Linked DNA regions of Homo sapiens. The protein of the gene in region 1 interacts with the protein of each later gene in a pairwise test. Each region holds a gene or a part of one and is shown on either strand. Other genes may lie near its edges.

What was found. Proteins that work in one complex are often made in the same cells at the same time.
Region 2: the proteins of ABCC5 (region 1) and SMC2 interact in a two-hybrid assay, tested with the Homo sapiens proteins (one large-scale study listed by BioGRID and IntAct).

The regions. Positions count from the first base shown.
Region 1 is NC_000003.12:184,010,909-184,016,111, reverse strand, and holds part of ABCC5 (ATP-binding cassette sub-family C member 5), read left to right. Parts: exon of another isoform or gene 1-553; intron 554-1,664; 5' UTR 1,665-1,719; coding exon 1,720-1,848; intron 1,849-4,692; exon of another isoform or gene 4,693-4,846; intron 4,847-5,203. UniProt on the Homo sapiens protein: ATP-dependent transporter of the ATP-binding cassette (ABC) family that actively extrudes physiological compounds, and xenobiotics from cells.
Region 2 is NC_000009.12:104,114,022-104,119,224, forward strand, and holds part of SMC2 (structural maintenance of chromosomes protein 2), read left to right. Parts: coding exon 1-60; intron 61-669; coding exon 670-808; intron 809-2,178; coding exon 2,179-2,298; intron 2,299-4,149; coding exon 4,150-4,354; intron 4,355-5,203. UniProt on the Homo sapiens protein: Central component of the condensin complex, a complex required for conversion of interphase chromatin into mitotic-like condense chromosomes.

The DNA.
Region 1 (5,203 bases):
ATAAAAGTGGTTGAAAGAATCTTTGGTTATCATGGGTGCTTAGATAATTAAGATTATGTTCGTGTTCTTCTTGATGTGGCATTTCATATTGTGGATGAGTTCCAGTGACCTCCTCTGTTTCAAACTGCTCACCGCCCCAACCCCCACCTTTTAAAAAGGTAGTACTAATCTTTTCCTCTTCCAGATAATCAGCTAAGCTAGGGAACCCTTGAAGGGGAAGGTTAGAATTTCGTGATTCCCGTAAGAAGGTTACTCTGATCTACAGCTACAGCTCAACACTGGGGACACTGGCAGATGCCAGGTCTGTTTATAGTTTAGCCTTAATGAGGTCTCAATGACGTGATTGCTGCACTCTGGCTTGGTGAGCCGCTGTTCTTTATGGTGTAGTTTGTCATTGGACAAGGTGACTTTTTTTTTTTTTTTAAAGATAAGTAACAGCTATATCAACTTAGGGTACTTGAACCAGAATTCTGAAAGGCAAGAAATCAAGCTTTCTTTGGACTGGAAACCTGTCTTTGCATAGGAGATTTAGTCCTTTTTATTCAGAGGATTAGTAAGTGTTCTCTTTTTATCTGACACTTTAAAAATTGCATTATAATGGTTAGAATTTTGTGCTGCAGAAGTAGTAGTTTTAAGTCACAGCGATAGCCAGGGATTTATGGAATCCAGAAGGCGACACGGCTACACGTCTTTAATTTCCGTTGGAGGCTAGTATGAAAGGTGTTTTCTCAGCTTGTCTCTGGGAGGCTGTGACCCTTCTTAGAGGGGGGAAACATTTTGGAGAAGTATGTATGTGTTTTTTGTTTTTAAGTGACCTGAGTTGATACAGCATATTGATTAGACTTAGCCAGGCAAGCAGTGGTTTAGAATAGAGTTTCAGGTAAAAACTAGGTAAGACTTAGTAATACAGGGTGGAGAATTTGTTTTTGTTATTGTTTTTTACTAACAGCTTTGTTGCCATAGGATTTATATGACATGAAATTCACTCTTTTAAAGTATAAATTCAGTGTGTTTTTTTTCAATGTATTCACTGCATTGTGCAACCATTACCACTATCTAGTTTTAGAACATTTTCAGTACCCAGGGAATTTGTGTTTGAAGTTAAGTTATAACATTGTTTTAACTGGATAACTTCATGGAGCTTTAAAATAACACCAGCTAACCCATTAGTTAATTATAAAAAGGCAGAGATGGAATATATCATTGGTAGAATAAGTGTTTGGTAAGTTTTTATTTAGTAAAATTTAGTAGAAGAAATGATGTCCACTTTAAAATTGTGGAGTTTTTAATACTTGGGACAAACTGAAATTGTTTCTAGAAAGTCTTTAAAAAAAAAACCAACCTTTCTATTGTATACACTGGATTTGAGCTTAGTTGAAGAGAATGGGTGTCTCTTTACTAGTGTGTTTACTGTTTCTAATTTTTTTTCCCTTAGAGTTGGGAGAAGGTAATTTTTCTTGATTCTCTTATACTGAATCTTTTTCTTTAAAAAAATGAAATCAAAATCTTTGAACTTTTTTTGAAAATTAATTTTTGTAGCTATAACAGTAGAAAGCTTTAGTACTTTTGCCTTTTTTTTTTTTTTCCTATTTTTAAGGCACTTGAGCTTATGGTTAAGTACTGTTTAGGAAATAATCTATTTCTTGATGAATTTTTAATTTCAGGAATTCTGATGTGAAACTAACAGTCTGTGAGCCCTGGAACCTCCACTCAGAGAAGATGAAGGATATCGACATAGGAAAAGAGTATATCATCCCCAGTCCTGGGTATAGAAGTGTGAGGGAGAGAACCAGCACTTCTGGGACGCACAGAGACCGTGAAGATTCCAAGTTCAGGAGAACTCGACCGGTCAGTTTCCTTTCCTAAGAGTCTCTTACCTGCTTGTTGTACTAAAACACATCTTTTTTCGTATAATGGGTAATTTAGAAACTTATTTTTTGGCCGGGCGCGGTGGCTCACGCCTATAAACCCAGCACTTTGGGAGGCTGAGGCGGGTGGATCATCTGAGGTCAGGAGTTCGAGACCAGCCTGACCAACATGGTGAAAACCTGTCTCTACTAAAAGTACAAAAATTAGCCAGGCGTGGTGGCGGGCGCCTATAATCCCAGATACTTGCGAGGCTGAGGCACGAGAATCGCTTGAACCCAAGAGGCGGAGGTTGCAGTGAGCTGGGATCATGCCACTGCACTCCAGCCTGGGCGATAGAGCGAGACTCAGTCTCAAAAAAAAATGTGTTTTTCTTTATTGGCTTTAGGTTACTGTTAAGAATTTATGGTTATTGATAAGTCTCTGGTCCATAGTAAGCACTCAATAAGTGGAAGAGAGGCTGGCTGTCACCCTCTCACCCGGTCTGTTCTGAGCATTCTCCTCTTTTTCACTTTTATTCTATGTTGGTGCCTTCTGAAAAGGCTATACTTAACAGAAGACAACTTATTGAGGGGGAGGGGGTCATGGGGTCAATGACAGGGAATATAAAGCCAATTAAGCTTCATTCATGTACCTAAACAAAATTGGTGTTTTCTTCTACTTTCTGTCATGTGTGTTTAAAATGTGAACCTGGCCAGGCACAGTGGCTCATGCTTGTAATCCCAGCACTTTGGGAGGTTGAGGTGGGTGGGTCACTTGAGGTCAGGAGTTTGAGACCAGCCTGGCCAACACGGTGAAACCCTGTCTCTGCTAAAAATACAAAAATTAGTGAGGTGTGGTGGTGGGCACCTGTACTCCCAGCTACTCAGGAGGGAGGCAGGAGAATTGCTTGAATCCAGGAGGCAGAGGTTGCAGTGAGCCAAGATCACGCCACTGCACTCCAGCCTGGGCAACAGAGTGAGACTCCGTCTCCAAAAAAATAAAAAATAAAATAAAATGTGAATCCTTTGGAGAGACTCAGATTTCAGAACAATTCTAGATAGTTGTGGGATTATCAGTATGTTTTTCAAGCGAATTCATAAGTTAAGCAGTCTTTAGATAATAATCTAATTTCCTCCAAGGGAAATAATGAAGATGCGTTTTTACCTCGAGAAAATATTCTTTTTCCTGAGGAAAAAAAGCATTATACCTTTTCTTACAAAAGTACCTAATAAGGCAGAATGGACTAGGTTTAGGAAGTTGAGGTTTTTGTTGGTGTATTTGTTATGTGAAAATTTGAGAAAGATAATGGACTTTGCAGCTGACACTGGCCTTTCCTTAGCCTGATACTACCTTTCCCTCTTTGGTTGTGTTAAAGCCATTGCTTTATTAATGAACATTTTCTTGCTAATGAGTCTTTTCTGTACCCTACTGTGTATTATAGAATGCTTTTCCATTCAGGTTTAACTTCAGAGAAACAGGCTTAATGTAATCAGTGTCAAATGCTTCTCGTGGTGCCAGTTTTATAACTTCCTCATGTCCTTTTGTCTAGACCTTATGTTGATTAAACATCTATCCATTACATCTGAGTGCTAGACACATTTAGTGTAACAGTTAAGTCTGGAAAAAGTCAGAAGGTAACATTGGGGCAGGGCCTTAAAGGGTGATTAGGTGGGGAGGCTTTTTAGGCGGTACAAGTACAGACCCAAAGGTATGGAAAGAGCGTGTGACATATTGGGACTTTGGATAAGCTACTTACGTCATTTGTATATAAAATGGGGTTGACAGTAGTACCTGACTCATGGGATCACTGAGGAGTAAATGAGATAATACATATAAAATATTTAAAATGGTACCTGGCACATGGCCAGTGCTCAATAAATGTTAGCTCTTAGAACTAGTTGTTCAGGGCATAGGATGTGTAAAGAGATTATAGGTCGGGTGAAATTCTGCATGCCATGCTAAGAAATATTTCACTGTGGGCATTAGGGAACTATTGGAAGTTAATGAGATTAAAAAAAAAAACCTTTTTATTTTGAGCTAACTGTAGATTTACATGCAATTATAAAAAATAATATAGAGATCCTATATATTCTTCATCCAGTTTCCCCCAGTGGTAACATCTTGCATAACTATAGTCCAGTATCACAACAGGATAATGATTGACATTGATACAATCCATTGACTTTAGGATTTCACCAGTTTTATATGCACTCATTTGTGTGTGTGTGTGTGTGTGTGTGTGTGTGTGTTGTGTTCTATGCATTTTTTAAAGGTGTAAATTTGTGTGACCGCTTCCACAGTCAGGATGCAAAGGTTCCATCACAAGGATCTCTCGTTACCCTTTTATAGCCACAGTCATGTCCCCTCAACCCCAGTCTCTGGCAACTGCTAATCTTTTCTCCATTTCTGTAATTTTGTCATTTTAAGAATGCTATATACATTGAATCATATAGTATATAACCTTTCGAGATTGCTTTTTTCACTCAGCTGAACTCCCTTGATAGCCATCTAATTTTGTTGTGTGCATCAATAGTTCTTTCCTTTGTATTGCTGAGTAGCATTCCGTGTTATAGATGTACCATAGCTTCTTTAACCATTCATTTGTTAAAGGACATATGGGTCATTTCCAGTTAATGGCAATTATACATAAAGGTGCTCTGAACCTTCAGTTACAGGATTTTGTGTGAACATAAGCTTTTATTTCTCTGGATTAATGCCCAGGACTGCGCTTGCTGGGTCATATGGTAAGTGCATATTTAGTTTGTAAGAAACTGCAGTACTCTTTCCCAGAGTGTCTGTGCCATTTTACATTCCCACCAGCAATGATCCAGTTTTTCCACATTGTTGCCAGTACTCAATGTTATAATGTTTATTTTAGCCATTCCTATAGATGTGCCTGGTATCTGATTGTGGTTTTAATTTGCAGTTCCCTAATGGCTACGATGTTTGAGAGTAGATTTTTATCTTAGATTAGTCTTGAAGCAATGCAGAAAAAAACCTGTACAGGAGAAAGAGACCAAATATAAAGAGCATTCAGGAAGCGGCTCTGCCTATCCATGTCAGAGAGGCCAGGGTTCTGTTGTAAAGCACAGAAGTGAGGATGGAGGAAAGGCGTTTCTAGAAGATAGGGAGGCATTGGGGTGTCTGGGATTGATGGTAAGGATTTAAACCTATTCGTGGACATAAGAAAAGGAGATTGGGGAGATATTAAGAATGAGTTTGGGCCGGGCACGGTGGCTCACGCCCGTAATCCTAGCACTTTGGGAGGCCGAGGCTGGTGGATTGCCTGAGCTCAGGAGTTTGAGACCAGCCTGGGCAACACAGTGAAACCCCATCTACTTGGGAGGTTGAGGCA
Region 2 (5,203 bases), on another chromosome or scaffold:
ATTGAAAGAAACATATGAAGCTCTATTAGCCAGATTTCCCAATCTTCGATTTGCATACAAGTAAGAGACTTAAGCCTTGAATTTTAACATAGTAATAATCAAGACATTTTTATTTAAGCTGGAAGCAGTGTGAAAATTTTGTCGAAACCAAGATTTTTGTATGAAACTTGTTGTAAGCTGCTTTTCTTTCATTGGTATTTTTCCTTTAAACATTTGTTGAAATGTTTTAAATGTTGGCAGGGAAATTCTTGTGAAATTTAATGGCTAATGATGCCACTAATCTTAAAATGAGGGAAATTTAATCTCAGTTCAAAATGTCTTCAGAGTTACTGTATCATTAATGTTAAATATCCACATTTACATCTTATAATTTGTTTTGCTATGTGGGTTTTTTATGGAATATTTACAGTAATCATATGTATTATAGGGATTAGAACATCAGAGTTGTTCTTACTACATTGAAACATACTGAAAGATCTATTGTGATTTAAAAACAACAGCTGGCTAGTCATTTGGGACATTTTAAAATTTTTGGTTTGTTAAAACCATTTTGCTGATTCTACTTTCATTTCACTTTAATGTGTTGTCCAAAAGAGCTCCTGATGAGTAAAGTATAACTTTTTCTACTTTATTATCTAAGATTAATTTTTGTCAACTTTTGTATTTCAGGGATCCAGAGAAGAACTGGAATAGAAATTGTGTGAAAGGACTTGTGGCTTCTCTGATTAGTGTGAAAGACACTTCTGCAACCACAGCTTTAGAATTAGTGGCTGGAGAACGACTCTACAATGTTGTAGTAGACACAGAAGTAAGTTGATTTTAATTTTAAAAAATTTAAAATTTGGTTAGCTTGAAAAGTCATGTGCTGCTAAAAGAATTAAATACTTTGATGTTTTAAGGCTCTCCCCTAAGGTGACTTATTTATAGGGTAAAACTATTTGGTTCATAACTTTTTGATAACTATTCCAAAGGAGGTCTCATGCTTACTCAGAAACTCAGAATGCATATTACCAATCTTAAACTTTTGGGATCTCTTTGCTGTATAAGTTGAATTTAATTTGTAAAATAATCTGGGAATAAATGACCTGTTTTTGATGTCAGTCTTCCCATCAAGGTAACATTGAATTTATTTACATTTCTTCAGTTCTCACTTATTATCCTTCTGTAGAATGCTCATATTCTTTCCTGTAAATGCTACGTAGTCATTGTCAAATTTACTTCCTTGTTTTTTTTTTAATTTATTTTATATATATATTTAAAATGTACAAGAAGCCTGGGTATGGTGGCTCACACCTGTAATCCCAGCACTTTGGGAGGCTGAGGTGGGCAGATCATTTGAGCCCAGGAGCTCGAGACCAGCCTCAGCAACGTGGCAAAACCCCATCTCTACTGAAAATACAAAAGTTACCCAGGCGTAGTGGCGTGCGCCTGGAGTCCTAGCGACTCTGGAGGCTGAGGCACAAGAATTGCTTGAACTTGGGAAGTGGAGGTTGCGGTAAGCTGCGGTAAGCTGAGATTGCACCACTGCGCTCCTGCCTGGGCAACAGAGGAAGACTGTATCTCAAAAAAAAAAAGAAAAAAACAAACGTACAAGATGTTTTGATACATATACATAGTGAAATGATTATTGTAGTCAGACATATTAACATAGCCATTCACCTTCCATAGTTACCTTTTTTGTGTGTGACAGCACCTAAAATTTACTCTTAGCAAATTTTCAGTATATAGTATTAATTATAGTCCTCATGCTATACATTACATCTCTGAATAGGTAGATTTATTTATCCTACCCAACTGCAAATATGTACCCTTTGACCTATGACCTACTTCTACCCATTTTCTTTCACTCCTCATCCCTGATAACCACTATCCTACTCTTTTTATTTGTTCAGCTTTTTTTTTTAAAAGATTCCATGTACAAGTGAGGTCATACAGTTTTTTATTTTTTCTTCGTCTGATTATGTCACTTAGCATCATGTCCTCTGGGTTTATTCATGTTGTCCCAAATGGCAGCATCTCCTTTTTCAAGTTCAAATGATGTTCCATTGCATATGTAATTATAACTTGATTGGGATAAATGGCACTAAACATTCATTTATTATAGACTACTAAACTTGCATTCTCTCAATTTTCTGTCATTTTTAACATGCGTTTTTTAAATTCAAATGTGTGTTGTAGGTTACTGGTAAAAAGCTACTAGAAAGGGGGGAACTGAAACGTCGATACACTATAATTCCACTCAATAAAATTTCAGCCAGATGTATTGCACCAGAAACTCTGAGAGTTGCTCAGAATCTTGTAAGTCTCATTTTGTCTTATTTATATGTTTAATCGTCATCTGTGGTTTTTTTAAGTTAGAAGACATTAATTTTGAGGGACATAATCATATGCAGAACCACAAAATTAAAATACAAAAAAATTGGGTTGGCTTGTGCAATTAGATGATAAGAGAATAGAGATGTTGGAAGACTTGAACTCCTTTTGATGCTTCACTTTGTGGTATTAGAATGTCCTTTTTAACCTTAAGTCACATGACTATCAATCAGGTGATGGTGAAAATTACACTCTTGATTCCTGAATGGTTAGAACTGAGCTTCTAGATACGTACCCCAAATTCTTCAAGTTTTTGTTTTTGTTTCTTTTTATGTCAGGCATACTAAAACTGCCCACAGTCACAGCCATTATGGAAGGCCTTCATTAGTATTGCAGTGATGCTTCTTTATTAGAGTTCTTCTAGATTGCTATTCAGCCTGTGCAGGTACATAGCAGGTGACCAGGATCCCATTCAACTGCTGACGTTGATCTAAAGTGACATGCTTGCTAGTAAGAAAATAGATTAGTACAAGGAAATACATTTAAAAGTTATTGTAGTTGTGTAATACTGTAAAAACATGAAGTCAGTCATAACATTCAGCTGTAATATCAGTTTTTTTATTGATCAGACATTCCAAGTACATCAGTTGAAAAGACATTTCTATGAAACTTAAAAATATACTTGTAACTAAGTGGATGTTGTTGTATCCTTAGTTACATTCAGAAGATTTCAATGCAAATGATTTCAAAATACAGTTGTGTTGATATGTATACTATCAGGAGAGGGAGGATGAGTGCTGAGTAATTGAAAGGTGATGTTTTTGGTTGGTACTTTCTTTACTTGAAAACTCACCATTAAGTCAAGAAGGCTCAGGAAGTTAATTCAGCCATACATCGAGTCCCAGCATTAGAAGGAAATTGGGATTTCAAGTAACAGCAAAAATACTTTGCCTCAAATCCTTTAGCCAAACCTATTTGATGGTAGCTGCCACATCAAAGAACAATACTGAACATGTGTTACATAGAGCTTCCTTCATTGTGACTGCCACTGCTGATACTAAGCTCTAAAAGAGATGCTTAGTTTTTCTTAAATGATGGGCAGAGGTAGCCTCTATAAACAAAGGCTGAGAAGAAGCATTGTGATCAAAATAGAGGACTGGGGATTTTTTAAATTACTTTTACTCTCAGTTATTGTGTTTTCATTTCTGTAACTGGCAGACGACTGCTCTAGCATGTTTCATTTGTATGAGAAAATATTTGTTGTGAAATCAAATTCCTGATTATTGAAACAACATTTTCATATAGTTGTGTTGATCTGGAAATTATAGGTTAAGCACTCCAAGTCCAACAACTGAAATTTTCCAAAATTCAAAACTATGACACCCAAAAAATGCTCATTGGAGTATTTTGGATTTAGAAAGTTCAACCACTGTAATACAAATATACCAAAATCTGAAAACAAACACTTCTGTTCTAAGCATTTAGGATAAAGGATACTCAATCTGTACTATAATTAAAGTTGTGTCCAGTCAACGTTGGTGAAGGACACTTAGAAACATGGTAATGGCTCCTTATTGATAGAAACTTTCATAATGCTCCATACTAGCTATTAATAAATATTTTACTTAGCAATAAATCTTTCAGTATTTAAACCTGCAGTTTTTTTTTCCTGAAACTTTGAGTTTTACATAGCTTTTTAGAAAATTCAGAAAGAGTTTTAATGCTAGGTAAGTATTATTTAAGTTTCTATTACAGCAGTTTTTACTGGTTTATAAAATCATATCTGAAAGGAAAAGTAGTAGTATGTACTGTGGCATATCTGTTGTTGTCCCACAGGTTGGCCCTGACAACGTTCATGTGGCTCTTTCCTTGGTTGAATATAAACCAGAACTTCAGAAAGCAATGGAGTTTGTCTTTGGAACAACATTTGTTTGTGACAATATGGATAATGCCAAAAAAGTGGCCTTTGATAAGAGGATAATGACTAGAACTGTAACTCTCGGAGGTGATGTGTTTGATCCTCATGGGACATTGAGTGGAGGTAAGTTTTATATCCTTTTCTCCTCACAATTCTTTGTGGTAAATAGGAAGATGCCTTTTTTAAGTACATTTTTAGCCCAACTACCCACTTCTTCAGGAAACATGTTAACTTCTCATTTGTGTGTTTGCCAGTGCCACCTACCTCCTGTCAAAAGTAAAACAAAAAATTAAACCTGCCCTTGAAATGGTACCTTAATGCCTTAAAGGAATTCTTAGACAGTGATCATATTCTTCTTGGTCTAGTATTTGCCACACTGAGTTTGCAGATCTTTGTCAAGACAATAGAATAACAAACACTGAATAATATTTACTGTATACCAGACAGTGTTCTACACTATGCTGTCCAATACAGTAGCCACTAGCCATATGTGACTTTTTACATTTAATTAAGTTAAAAGTAATTTCCTTGGTTGCATTAGTCACATTTCAAGAGCCCATAATCACAAATGGTTAATGGATAATTCGACAATGCAGATATAGAACATGTCTATCATTCTATAAAGCCCTATTCTATGGGCTTTAAATAAGAATTAGTTCTTAATAACAACGATGAGGTAGGCATATTATTATGATCTCTAATATACAGTTGCAGAAATGAAGATACAGAGTGCTTAAATAACGCACTACAGGGTGGCAGAGCTTAGAATCTGAATCCCAGCAGTCTGATTTCATAGTTTGTGTTTTTAACCCAGTAGACGGCATAAAGCCACTTGAGGTATCAAGTGACTTAATGTTGCTCTCGGCCACGAAAACATTAGCCGGTTCAGTGAATTCCATGACTAGGTATCAGATTCTCCAGTACACAATCAAATGACTAGTATCTGCAAATGGAAGATAAAAAGAGACTGTG